2 separate regions of the Homo sapiens genome follow, and region 1 is linked to region 2. The links come from fine-mapping of genetic effects on gene expression. A gene starts in region 2. The other region holds a variant in brackets. All regions are shown on one strand. Distances are between the middles of the regions. Region 1 overlaps GABBR2 (gamma-aminobutyric acid type B receptor subunit 2). Region 2 holds the start of GABBR2 (gamma-aminobutyric acid type B receptor subunit 2).

Region 1 (5,364 bases), 170 kb before region 2:
ATCACCAGGGTCTGGACTCTCGGTACTTATGCCCCTCTTCTGGCTCTGTCCACAGCCTCCCAACAACCCTCCAGTTCCTTACCGCAGCCCCTCAATGTGCACACGGGTTACCTGCCTGCCTATCCCTCTCCAACACAGACTTCGTGGACCACCCAACTCTTCACACCCCTACTGTTGTCTTCCATCTGGCAGGGCCCCCAGCACTGGACCAAGGCCTCCCTCCACCTTCTCCATCCTGCTCCTCAGTCCCCAGGCCTGCTGAGGGCCACAAGTAGACCGAGGCCACCAGGTAGAATGGGGCTACTTTGAGCTCAAGGTCTCCCACCACCAGAGGGCGTCACTTCCACCCTGAGCTCCTGACTCTGAGCCAATTACGCAGGACGTGAGTTCTCAACGCTGGCGACACACTGAAGCCACCTGGAGAGCTTGGACAGGCTCCAACACCAGGGTCGTCCAGTGTGGTTGCTCTGGGGATGGCCTGGGCATCAGGATTTTCAAAGCTCCCCAGATGCTCCATCCATACAAGGGATTACCACTCAGCAGTAGAAAGAAACAAACCACCGCCACATGCCACAGCATGATGTGCCTCAAACACTGCGCTAAGTGAAAGAAGCCAGACGCAAAAGACTGCGTGTTCTTTAATTCCATTTATATGAAATTTCCAGAAAAGGTAAAACTATTCCTGGGGCTGGGGGGTGGAACTGACTACAAATGGGCACATGGGAATTTTTAGAGTGATGAAGAGTGTTCTAAAACTGGATTGTGGCGATGGTTGCACAAACACATACTTTTTTTTTTTTGAGACAGGGTCTCACTGTCTCCCAAGTTAAAATGTGCAGTAGGGCAATCATAGCTCACTGCAGCCTTGAACTCCTGGGCTCAAGCCTCTCAGGTAGCTGGGACTATAGGTGTGCACCATCATGCCCAGTTAATTTTTGTATTTTTTTTTGTAGAGACAGGGCTTTGTCATGTTCTCCAGGCTGGTCTCAAACTTCTGGGCTCAAGCAATCCTTCCACTTTGGCTTCCCAAAGTGATGGAATTACAGGTGTGAGCCACCACACCTGGCCAACATAAAAAATTTATAAAAAATAATTGAACTGTACATTAACAACGGATGAACTGTATGGTATGTAAATTATATCTCAATAAGGCTATTAAAAGTGAAGAAAAGGAAATGGAAGAAAATCCAAAAATGTACATTTTATTTTGTATTAAAATCAAAATTTCCCTGGTGATTCTAGCGAGCAGCCAGAGTTGAGAACACAATGCAGGAAGCCTCACCACTCACCCCCAGGCTGTGTCATTGATCTCTGGTCCTCCACAGCACAGGGCCCATCACAGACCATGGCACATAGGAGGCCACACTGATTTTTTGAGTGAATGGGCCTGCATTTTCAGTTTGCCCCATGAATCACTGGAGAAGCAAATGGCTATTTAGTGAGCACCTACTACACAGAGATCTTTCATTTCTGTTTTCTCACTTAACCATCTCATCTTCAGTACCTGCAAGGTAGGATAAATAGCCCCATTTTACACAAGGGAAAAGTGGATCTCTATGAGGCCTAGGATCTCACAGCCATCACTTAGCAAGGATGGGCTCAGAGATCAGCCCACCTGGTACCAAATCCTTCCTTCTTTTGTCTCATTTACATCTTTCATCCAGAGGGGGCATGGCAGAGCAAGCTGAAACTTTCCAGTAGCCAATTCTCTCCATGGAACCCTGGTCCCAGCAGCAGCTCTAGATCTGATACATCCTAGGGTCAGCATGGGAAAGTGAATTGCCTGGGGTCACGCAGCCATGCTTGGCCAAAGTGGGCCTAGAGATCAGTACCTCAGACCCAAGTCCTGAGCAGCCTCTGGGTTACCATGGGCTTACCTTGAAACTCAGAGGTTGGAGGTGCTCACAGGAGCAGCTGGTCCCCAGGTGGGATGGCCCTCAGCCTTCTACCCGCTTCCATAGTCCTAATGCCACAGTAATAAGCTCCGTGGGAGTAAAGCCCCTCCACCACCCCCTC[C/T]GACTTCAGGATTTCTTTCACTTGACATTCCTTCCAGTGCACCAGTCCGGAACAGAAGTGCTTGACGTTGCTGATCGACCAGTTTCATAAAAGGAATCCAGTTTCCTTTGCACTCATGAAAAGCTGTTAGCCCCTGGCGAGTTTCCAGGGCCTGCACTCCAGCGATGCAGCCCAGACATTGAGAGAGGGATGCCAAAGCCCTTGGGCACAGAGAGGAGTCAGCTGGGCTGAGAGATTTAAATCAAGAGAGGTCCTTGCCAGCAATACCAGCAAGCAGCATCCTGTCCTCGGGAAAAAAGGTTTCCCACTGAGATGCCCTGAAACCCTGGCTGAGGGCCCCGACACGGCTGTGCAAGGGGAAAGATGTGCTACCCAACAGTCAAGACCTGAGATTACCCAGTGAGGACCATGTAGCGAGGACACACAGCAACAGCCTGAGGGTACAGCTTCCAGCCCTGCCTGGGCTCTTTACCAGCATGCGCCCTGGGGCAAGAGACCTCCCACCCTCTGCAAACCTCAGTTTCCCCATCTGTAAAATGGGAACCATCACTCCTCCTTACAGGGTGGCTGTCTGTGAGAGTTTTTGGGAATCTATAAGGCACACAACCAATGTCAGGGCTCACAATTTACCCCCTTTAGAACCAGTCTGGTGGGAATTTCAAACCTCTTAGGCTATATGCAGGTAGTTCCTATGCAATTCCAGGAAGCTAGAGAAGAAAAGAAGGAGAAATGGGAAGTCTGAACTGAGGGGTTCAGGACCCCAAAATTTAGTCCTGACTTTTCTGTGAACAATCTTTCATGACTTCAGAGGTGCCTTGAAACCTTGAACTTTGTCCCCTTCCCTCTCTGGGCCTTAGTTTCCCCTTCTACAAAATGAGGAGGGTAGGAGATATGTCTCTAAGGGTCCTTCAGGCTCTGACAGCCAAAGATGCTATTAGAAAAAAGCAGGTCTGGCCGGGCCCGGTGGCTCATGCCACTTTGGGAGCACTTTGGGAAGCTGAGGTGAGCAGATCAAGAGGTCAAGAGATCGAGACCATCCTAGCCAATATGGTGAAACCCCGTCTCTACTAAAAATACATAAATTAGCTGGGTGTGGTGGCACGTGCCTGTAGTCCCAGCTACTCGGGAGGCTGAGGCAGGAGAATTGCTTGAACCCAGGAGGCAGAGGTTGCAATGAGCCGAGATTGCGCCAGTGCACTCCAGCCTGGTGACAGAGTGAGACTTCGTCTAAAAAAAAAAAAAAAAAAAGAAAAAGAAAAGAAAAAGGAAAAAGCAAGTCTCTCTAAATCCTAGTAGAGTCCAGTGTTAATGGGGCCATGGGATGGGTCCTTCTTATCCTCCACCATCCACTTGTTTCACTCTCATTTTAGAACATTTCTCGCTTCTCTATGAAGGCGGCCTTTCAGCAAAAGCCTCTTCAGCGTTTGGCAATGAGTCACTCCCGCTGGAGGTCAAGTTCCCTTTGTGCCTCCTCCTAGGGGCTGAGAAACAGAGAGGTGGGAAGATGACGAGCAGTCTTGCCTGGGAAAAGCTTGCCTTGTTTGGATACCCACAGACAGTGGGGCCAAACACTTCCACTTTTCACGCACCTCCAAAAACAACCCTCTCTGTGTATGAACTTTACAGTTTACGAAGCTCTTTCAGATCCATTACTCATTGGATTTTGGCAGAAGCCCTGCAGGGAGGCATGCAAGAAGTTATTGTCCCCATTTTACAGGGGAGGAATCGAAGCTCAGAGAAGCAAGGTAACGTCTCCAAGGTCACACAGCCAATGTATGAAGTGGTCTCTCCTTCCCATGGAAGAGACAGGGGGCAAGAACCTCAGAAGGTAAGTGCAGAGCTGCAGTGGAAACCAGGTCTGCTGATTACCAGCCCTGTTCTACTCCCAACTTTCTTGCCACCCTGCCCGGCCTTTCCCCATTCCCAGGCTGGCAAGAGGCTGTGTGTCTGCCCCCACCGCTCCGGCTGAGGTCTGTCTAGACCCCTGACTCACACATGGAAATCCTCCACACGGCTAAAGTTTGTTTCTCTTGGGCTGCTAAGAACACTTGGTTTGTCTTGTGTTTTTGGAGGCTCCAAGTATCAAAAGCACACATGGGAATAGAAAGGAGAGGAGGAGGCACAAAGCAAATGGGAAAAAAGACAGGAGGCCATTTTGTACTCATCTGAGTGAGGCTAATGTTTCAAATATTTGTTAATATCCACTGTTAGTAAGGATATGTGAAAATGGGAATTTTCAAATGCTGTTGGTGGGACTAGAAATTAGAACTGCCTTTTTGGAAGTCAGTCCTTCTCAAATTTTTAAATGGCCCAGCAAATCCACTTCTAGAAGTCTACTGCCAAGACGCACACCTAGCCATGAGAGTATGGTTGTCCCATTGAAAAGTGGTCAACGTTCAGAGGGGCTGGCTCGGTAAGTTACGATATACCCATCTGACAGAACACCAGGTCCCTTTAAACCATGAGGTTAATCAAGACCTCTAAGATCTGTTGTAAAGTGAAAAAAGAAACATACATGATATGAAGTCATTTGGCTTTAAAACAAATACATTGAAAAAGTTCTAGGCAGATGAACCCCTAAGTGAAAGCAGGAGTTAACTTTCAGAGAGAAAGCATGATTCAGGTGGCTTAGGACAAAGCAACACTTTTACATTTTTTACTACCCATATTTTGGCTTTTTTTTCCCCCACAACAAAACACATACACAAAACAAAAAAATTGCCTACCATATATTAAGGTGTGTTTGTAAGTCACTTAGAACAAACAAAACTCTGTACCCCATCCAAGGTGACATTGGCATCTTCGGTCCAAGCCAGCCCTTCCCCAAAACTCTCCTCACAGATGAACACACCCCCTGGTAGAACTTTGTGATCTTAGATGGTCACGACAGCATCAGTAACAAAGACAAGCCCACAGGGCCACTGAGGGAATAAGCCACACGAGGTAGCCAATAAAAAGAATGAAAGGGAAGGTTCACTCCTGATGATGGTTTCCACCAGTCCTATGCACAGTGAAATTCCTCAGCTACCAGCTCTATTTTGTCAACGGTGAAACAGCTTTGATCGCACTAACCAACACATGCTTAAAAGCCCTGTGACAGTACCCATCCCTGACTAAACCACATTGCCTTTTGCTAGATGACAGCAGCAAGCAGTAAGGCAGGCCGTGTCCACACAAGCCGAGCGTACCTCAGAGAACCTCTGAACGTCTTGCGTCAGCGTGCCCACGCGCTTCCACTGGTAGTGCTTGAGCAACTTCAGAATGGCTGGATTCACCGCATTGTCTGATGGGACGGTCCGAAAGAAATAAGGGTATTTTTTCTTATCGGCTAGAACAGGCGTGGTTGCA
Region 2 (5,364 bases):
CCAAAAGACCGGCTTTGCAGTGACCCCTCCAGAAGAATATGTGCAGTAGCAACAGAGAAACTGTCAAGAAGATATGCCTCCGTGTAACTGCATTGCTGTCTCCATTTATGTGTGCCAGACAAGTACCCCCACAGAACTTGAGATGCTCAGGCAAAGACGAGGGCGATAGGAATGTCATTCGGAAATGATTTCACACCGGGTTAGCCCTGCACAGCCAGCCAGCTTGCATCCTCTGGGGCAGAGGACGCCTCTCCGCCTGCAGCAGCCTGCGCGTACCGCTGCCAACTGCCACCGGTTCCTTCACCTTTTATTTACAGCGCAGAGCAAGCTGGTTCACCGGTGAAGCGGGGGAGGCAGGGAATAAGATACAATCTAGATTCTGCTCTTTCTCTGGGGACATAAAGAGGGTCCGACCAAGGAGGAGGGGAAGCCCAGATTGCACCACCAGAGCAGTAGCGCGACCCTCCTCCCAAAAGGGTTCTGCACCTGGACTCCAGCAGAAGCGCCCGGAGAGTCCCAGGAAGCCAGGATCAAGCCCAGCGCCTCGGCCCCGTTCCGCGCGATGGAAGAGGCGCCAACCGAGCGTACTGCACAGGAAATCACTGCCCCCTTCAGGCCGCGTCTCAGACGCTGCGGTCGGAGCACAGGGGCTCGCTCGGTCCGGAAAAACTCGCAAACCCGACCTTGCGCGGCCAGCGATCGCTCCTCCAGACCCGCTCCGCGCGCTCCAGCCCCGGCCTGGCGGTGAAGGTCCGCTCTGGGGCTTCAGGCAGAACCCAAACCGAGGGCGTGGGGAGGGGTCTTGGGATGGAAAGCCCTTGGCTCTCTGGCTCCGCTCCGGACTGCTCTCCAAGTCTGTGCTCCGGCTGCTAGGTCGGATGCTTCAAGCCTGAGCCGTGAGAAACTGCCTGCAGCCGCCCGGCCAACAGCAGCGGCGCGGCCGGACACCACTGCACGTCCGGGACGAGAACTGCCAGGGCACTTTCTGAGCAACTAACCCGAGGCAGGGGTCTCCTGAAATCGCTCTGGCCACAGGCAGCGCCGGGCACGTCCAGGCAGAAGCGCTGCAGAGCCGGTGGCCCCACACTTGCCCGCGCGGAGCGGGCTCAGAGCTGCTGGCGCGCACCAGGCGCCCAGCCACGCTGCACGCTCAAGCCCCTTGGGTTCCGGAGCCTTCCGGACCTCAAAGCGCGGCTCGGCTTCCCTGGGGGCCTGTGAGCAGGCCCGCGGCCCCTCCGGCCCTGGGTGGCCCAGTTTGCAGTCAATGCGCCTGTTCCTCCCACTCGGTACCTCGCAGCCCCATGAGCGGGACCTGGACAGGGACAATCAATGTAGGCCTTTGGGGGTCCAGCCCCCACCTTCTCCACTCCTTTTTCTCTGGTCAAAAGAGACCCCAGTCTTCTATCCCACCCCCACCCCTCCCCACACACACATACACACATAAGACCAGAGGAGGGGGTGCTTGGCAAATGTTACCAGCTGTGCCAGCCAAGCCCAGCAGGACCGCGGGGGTGAACACTGGGCACCAGCCCTCTCTGCCCTCGGCAGGCGCGGGCCGGTCAATCGGGGATCTGACCAAAGGCCGGAGGTTGCCTGTGTCCAAACCACCCACCCCAATGCCCCCCGAAGCCCCGACGGCAGGGGCAGCCGGACACTCACCTCCGTGTCATAGAGCCGCAGGTCGAGGAAGTAGGGGCGCAGGAGTGACTCGTTGCGGATCTGCTCGATGGCCAGTTCCACGGCGGGGAGCACACCGCGCCCGATGCTGCCCTTGGCCACCTCCTTGGTGAGCGGCATGAGGCCCATGATGGAGAGCGGCGGGCTGCTGGGCGGCGGCCGGGGGGCGCCCCGCGCCCAGCCCCAGGCCCCGGGCGCCAGAGGCAGCAGCAGCGGCAGCAGCAGTAGCAGTAGCAGGCGCGCGGGCGGCGGTGGCGGCGGCGGCGGCGGCCCGGGCTGCCCGGAGCTCCGCGGGGAAGCCATGCCGCGCCGCGGGCTGCGGGCGCCGGCTCACTCGGCCCGCATGGCCTGGCCCGGCCCGCCGCCCCGCGCCAAGGTCTTCCCGCGGCGCCCGCGCAATGGCGCCGGCCCGGGCCCCGGCTCCGTCTCGGGCTAGGGTTCCGGCTCGGCTCAGAACGGCCGCGGCGGCGGCGGCGGCAGCGGCGGCGCCCGTGACGGATCAATCACGCCGGGAAGGGGTGGGAGCGAGCGGAGTGCGGGAGGCGGGGAGCAAGCGAGCAAACGCGGAGAGGGGGGCCGGCGTCTCCGCGCGCGCCTCTCTCCAGCGCGGCCGCCCCGCACCGGGCCGCCTCCGCCCGCCCCCGTGCGCGCTCTGAACCGCTCTCCCGCCGGGAGCTGCTAGGCGGCAGCCCCTGGAGCTCGGCCGGGGGAGGGCGGACGGCAGGAAACGCGGGAGGCGAAGGCGAGGCTGCTCAGGGGCGGCTCGGGCCGCCTCCAGGGACGGGGACGAGCCGTGCGCGCCGGGGGAGGGGGAGGCGCTGGCGCTGCGGCGGCCGCGGGGAGGGCCACCTTCCCAGCACACGCACACACGCGCCCCCGGCCCTCCGCTGCGCCAGCTGCCGCTGCCCGCCGACCGCTGACCTCCAGGCACCAGAGCGCCCGGGGACAGCGATCTGGGAACCGGGACCGCGCGCTGGCACACGCAGTGGCCGCCGCCGCTCCGCCGAGCGCTGCCTGTAGCACCTGCACGGTGGTTTGGAACCGCTTCTCGGAGGTCTGGCCGGGAAGGTCTGGGCAGGAGAATGTTCCACGAAGGCGTCCCAGAGGCATCTGCAGCCTACGCTCTCCCGTTCTTTTCTGGCGCCCACGAGCCCCTGACCGAGTCCCGGGGGTCGCTGAAGACGCCCACGGGTGCTCGAACGCCCGTTGGTGCCAGGCTGCCCGGCCTTTAGGGCCTTGGCTGAGGACACCCCTTTCCTCCCCACCAGACGGAGCGACCGCCCTTTGCCAACCCCAAGCAAAGCTGGGGTCCCAACCTTACGTGCGCTACCGCCCCCTCCAGGCATTTGACCTCCCCGCGTCCCCATTCTTGATGGGCCCCGCCCTAGAAGTCTCCCGGGGTGGGAGCACTATCCTCAGGCCAGGGCGGGGCCGCGCGCCCCTGGACTTGGCCCTCTCTCTGCCAGGTCGCACTGGCCAATCTTAGCCAAAGCAGTCCCGAGCCAGATGTACCCGAGTGAGCTGACCTAAGACCTTGGGTTCCTTGTGCCTCTGCATACTTCAAGAATAGGAAACGTGATCATTAATCTATAAAGTCCCAGGGGCTGATTAATGCGAGGAACACAGTAGGACATCAAATCACAAAACATACTTGAGCCTGAACCAGGGACTGTGGAAGATATCGACGACCTTGTAACAAGAATGGAAGTTTGACCTTCGCTGAGTACTTACTGTGTGCCTTATGATGTAATCCCCACAACTGCCCTGTAAGCATACTGTGTTACTCACCCTTACTTTACAGGCGAATACACTGGTGCTCAGAGAGGTTCTGTAGCTAGTGGAAGCACACAGAGCTACTGAAGGACCGGAACCCAGAGCCAGCAGGAACTCCGTGCACAGTGCAGTGGGAGCCAGGGATGTGGGACTGCAAGTTTCCTCTCCAGGAGGAGCACTGCCCTGACTCAGTTGCTCTGGACATCGATTCCCTCCGGCATATGGTGAGGGATTTGGACCGGATGATGATGATGATGGCCACACACCAGCTCTACTGGAGTGAGGCAAGGGCAGCTCTGAATCCAGGCTGAGTTGTTAGGAAGCACAAAGATGTGAGTGGAGGCTGAGCAGAACTACTAGAGAGTACCTTGGACAGCGCCAGGGAAACCAGGCCAAATTCTCTCTGCCCTAACTTCTCTTTCCAGGCTTCTATAGACTCCACCTCTCCCGGCTCCACTTGGCATTTCCTTTTCCCCAAGCTGGAGGGTTTGCATGAACAGAACTCACCTGAGCATCTCCTCCAGGAAGGGAGGAAGGAAGGGAGGGAGGGAAAGAAATGGTCCAAAGGACAGTGTAATCCCCAGATACTCGCTCAACTGCTGTCTCACTTGACATCACAAATATCCTCCAGTCATAGTCTTCTGGCACCTGCCATTCCTCAAACCCTTAGCTCAGGTTTCTGAATGAACATTTTCACTTGGTTTTTTTCTTTTTTCTAATTCTTTCCTTTAGTCATTTGTGTCCTCCTTGCAAGCTGTGCCAATATAGAGTGTCCACTGACACCTACATCTGGGAATAAGTTGAAAGCTGGGTAACTTTGCCTGACATTTACTAAGGGGTTGAAGGCCCTACCTGGCATCCTGCCCTACAGCCCCTCTGTCTTCTTTTATGGTGGGGTGACCTGGCCCCAAGACGCATGACCTGGGATCTGCCCTGACCCAGGGGGCACCAATCTCACTCTCCATCAGCATGGCTCCAGGCCAATCTCTGATCTCACAGCCCACTCCTAATGCCTGGGCATCCCTCTGGTTCCAAGATCTTACTCTGGCCTGGTATTACAGTTTGGGTAACTGCATCCCTGATGTGCTTCCTGAGTCTGAGTTCCTGCCTCAGTCACCAGCCTAGAATGCATGTTCCTCCAGAGCTGGGGTCCAGCGTCTTGCTTTATAATAATCATTCATTCCTTTGACCAGTGTTTTGAAGGGCATGCTACCTGCTAGGCACTGTCCTAGGAGCTGATGATATAGGAAGGAAAAAACCAGAACAAAATCCCTGCCCTTGTAGAATTGACATTCTAGTGGAGAAAGAGAAACAATAAATAGGAAGAAGAAGATATGTTAGTATGCCCATTTATGAAAAGTGCTATGGTGAACAAAAAAGCAGGAAAGAGGATTGAGACTGGCAGAGTGGGGCTGCAATTTGAAATAGGGAGGTCAGGGAAAGACACACTAAGGTGACTCCTCAGCAAAGACATAAAGAAGGTAAGTAAGAGAGACAGGCGAATAGTGTTCCATGCAGAGGAACAGCAAGGGCAGAGGCTCCGAGACAGGAGTGTGCCTGGCATGTTCAAGGAACAATGTGGAAGCCAATGTGGTAGAGCAGAGTGGGCAAAGGGAAAGCAATCAGATCCAAGGTCAAAGGCAGGTAGGACTGTATGGGGCCTCAGCACTGGGAGGGCACATGAAACAGCAACCGTGGGAGGCTACTGGGTGGAGCAGTGACATGATCTGATGTATTTTAAGAGGATCACTCTGGCTGTAGAGTGAAGAACCGTTAGCAGGGGAAAAGAGCGTGAGCAGGAATACCTGTTAGGAGTCTCTACTACAATAAGCACATTTGGTGGCCAGGCCAGGGTATAAGCAGAAGAGAGGATGAGAATTGGCTAATCATTGTGCTTCTTATTAATTGGAATAA

What was found. PIP is the estimated chance that this variant, and not a neighbour inherited with it, causes the effect. A credible set is the group of variants that fine-mapping cannot tell apart.
Region 1: its variant is the best candidate, but not a certain one, in a credible set for the expression of GABBR2 in lung (TOPMed, PIP 0.69).

What each region holds. Positions count from the first base shown.
Region 1 is chr9:98,536,669-98,542,032 of GRCh38, forward strand. It overlaps GABBR2 (gamma-aminobutyric acid type B receptor subunit 2), which reads right to left. Exons shown (of 19, transcript NM_005458.8): 3 at 5,205-5,364. Among named protein-coding and RNA genes, the nearest start is that of GABBR2, 170 kb to the right of the region's middle. The variant C/T (reference allele first, on the strand shown) is at 2,017.
Region 2 is chr9:98,706,758-98,712,121 of GRCh38, forward strand. GABBR2 (gamma-aminobutyric acid type B receptor subunit 2) reads right to left here and starts at 2,178. Exons shown (of 19, transcript NM_005458.8): 1 at 1,660-2,178. The coding sequence starts at 1,980. RefSeq lists enhancers at 1-375, 947-1,517, 3,270-3,564.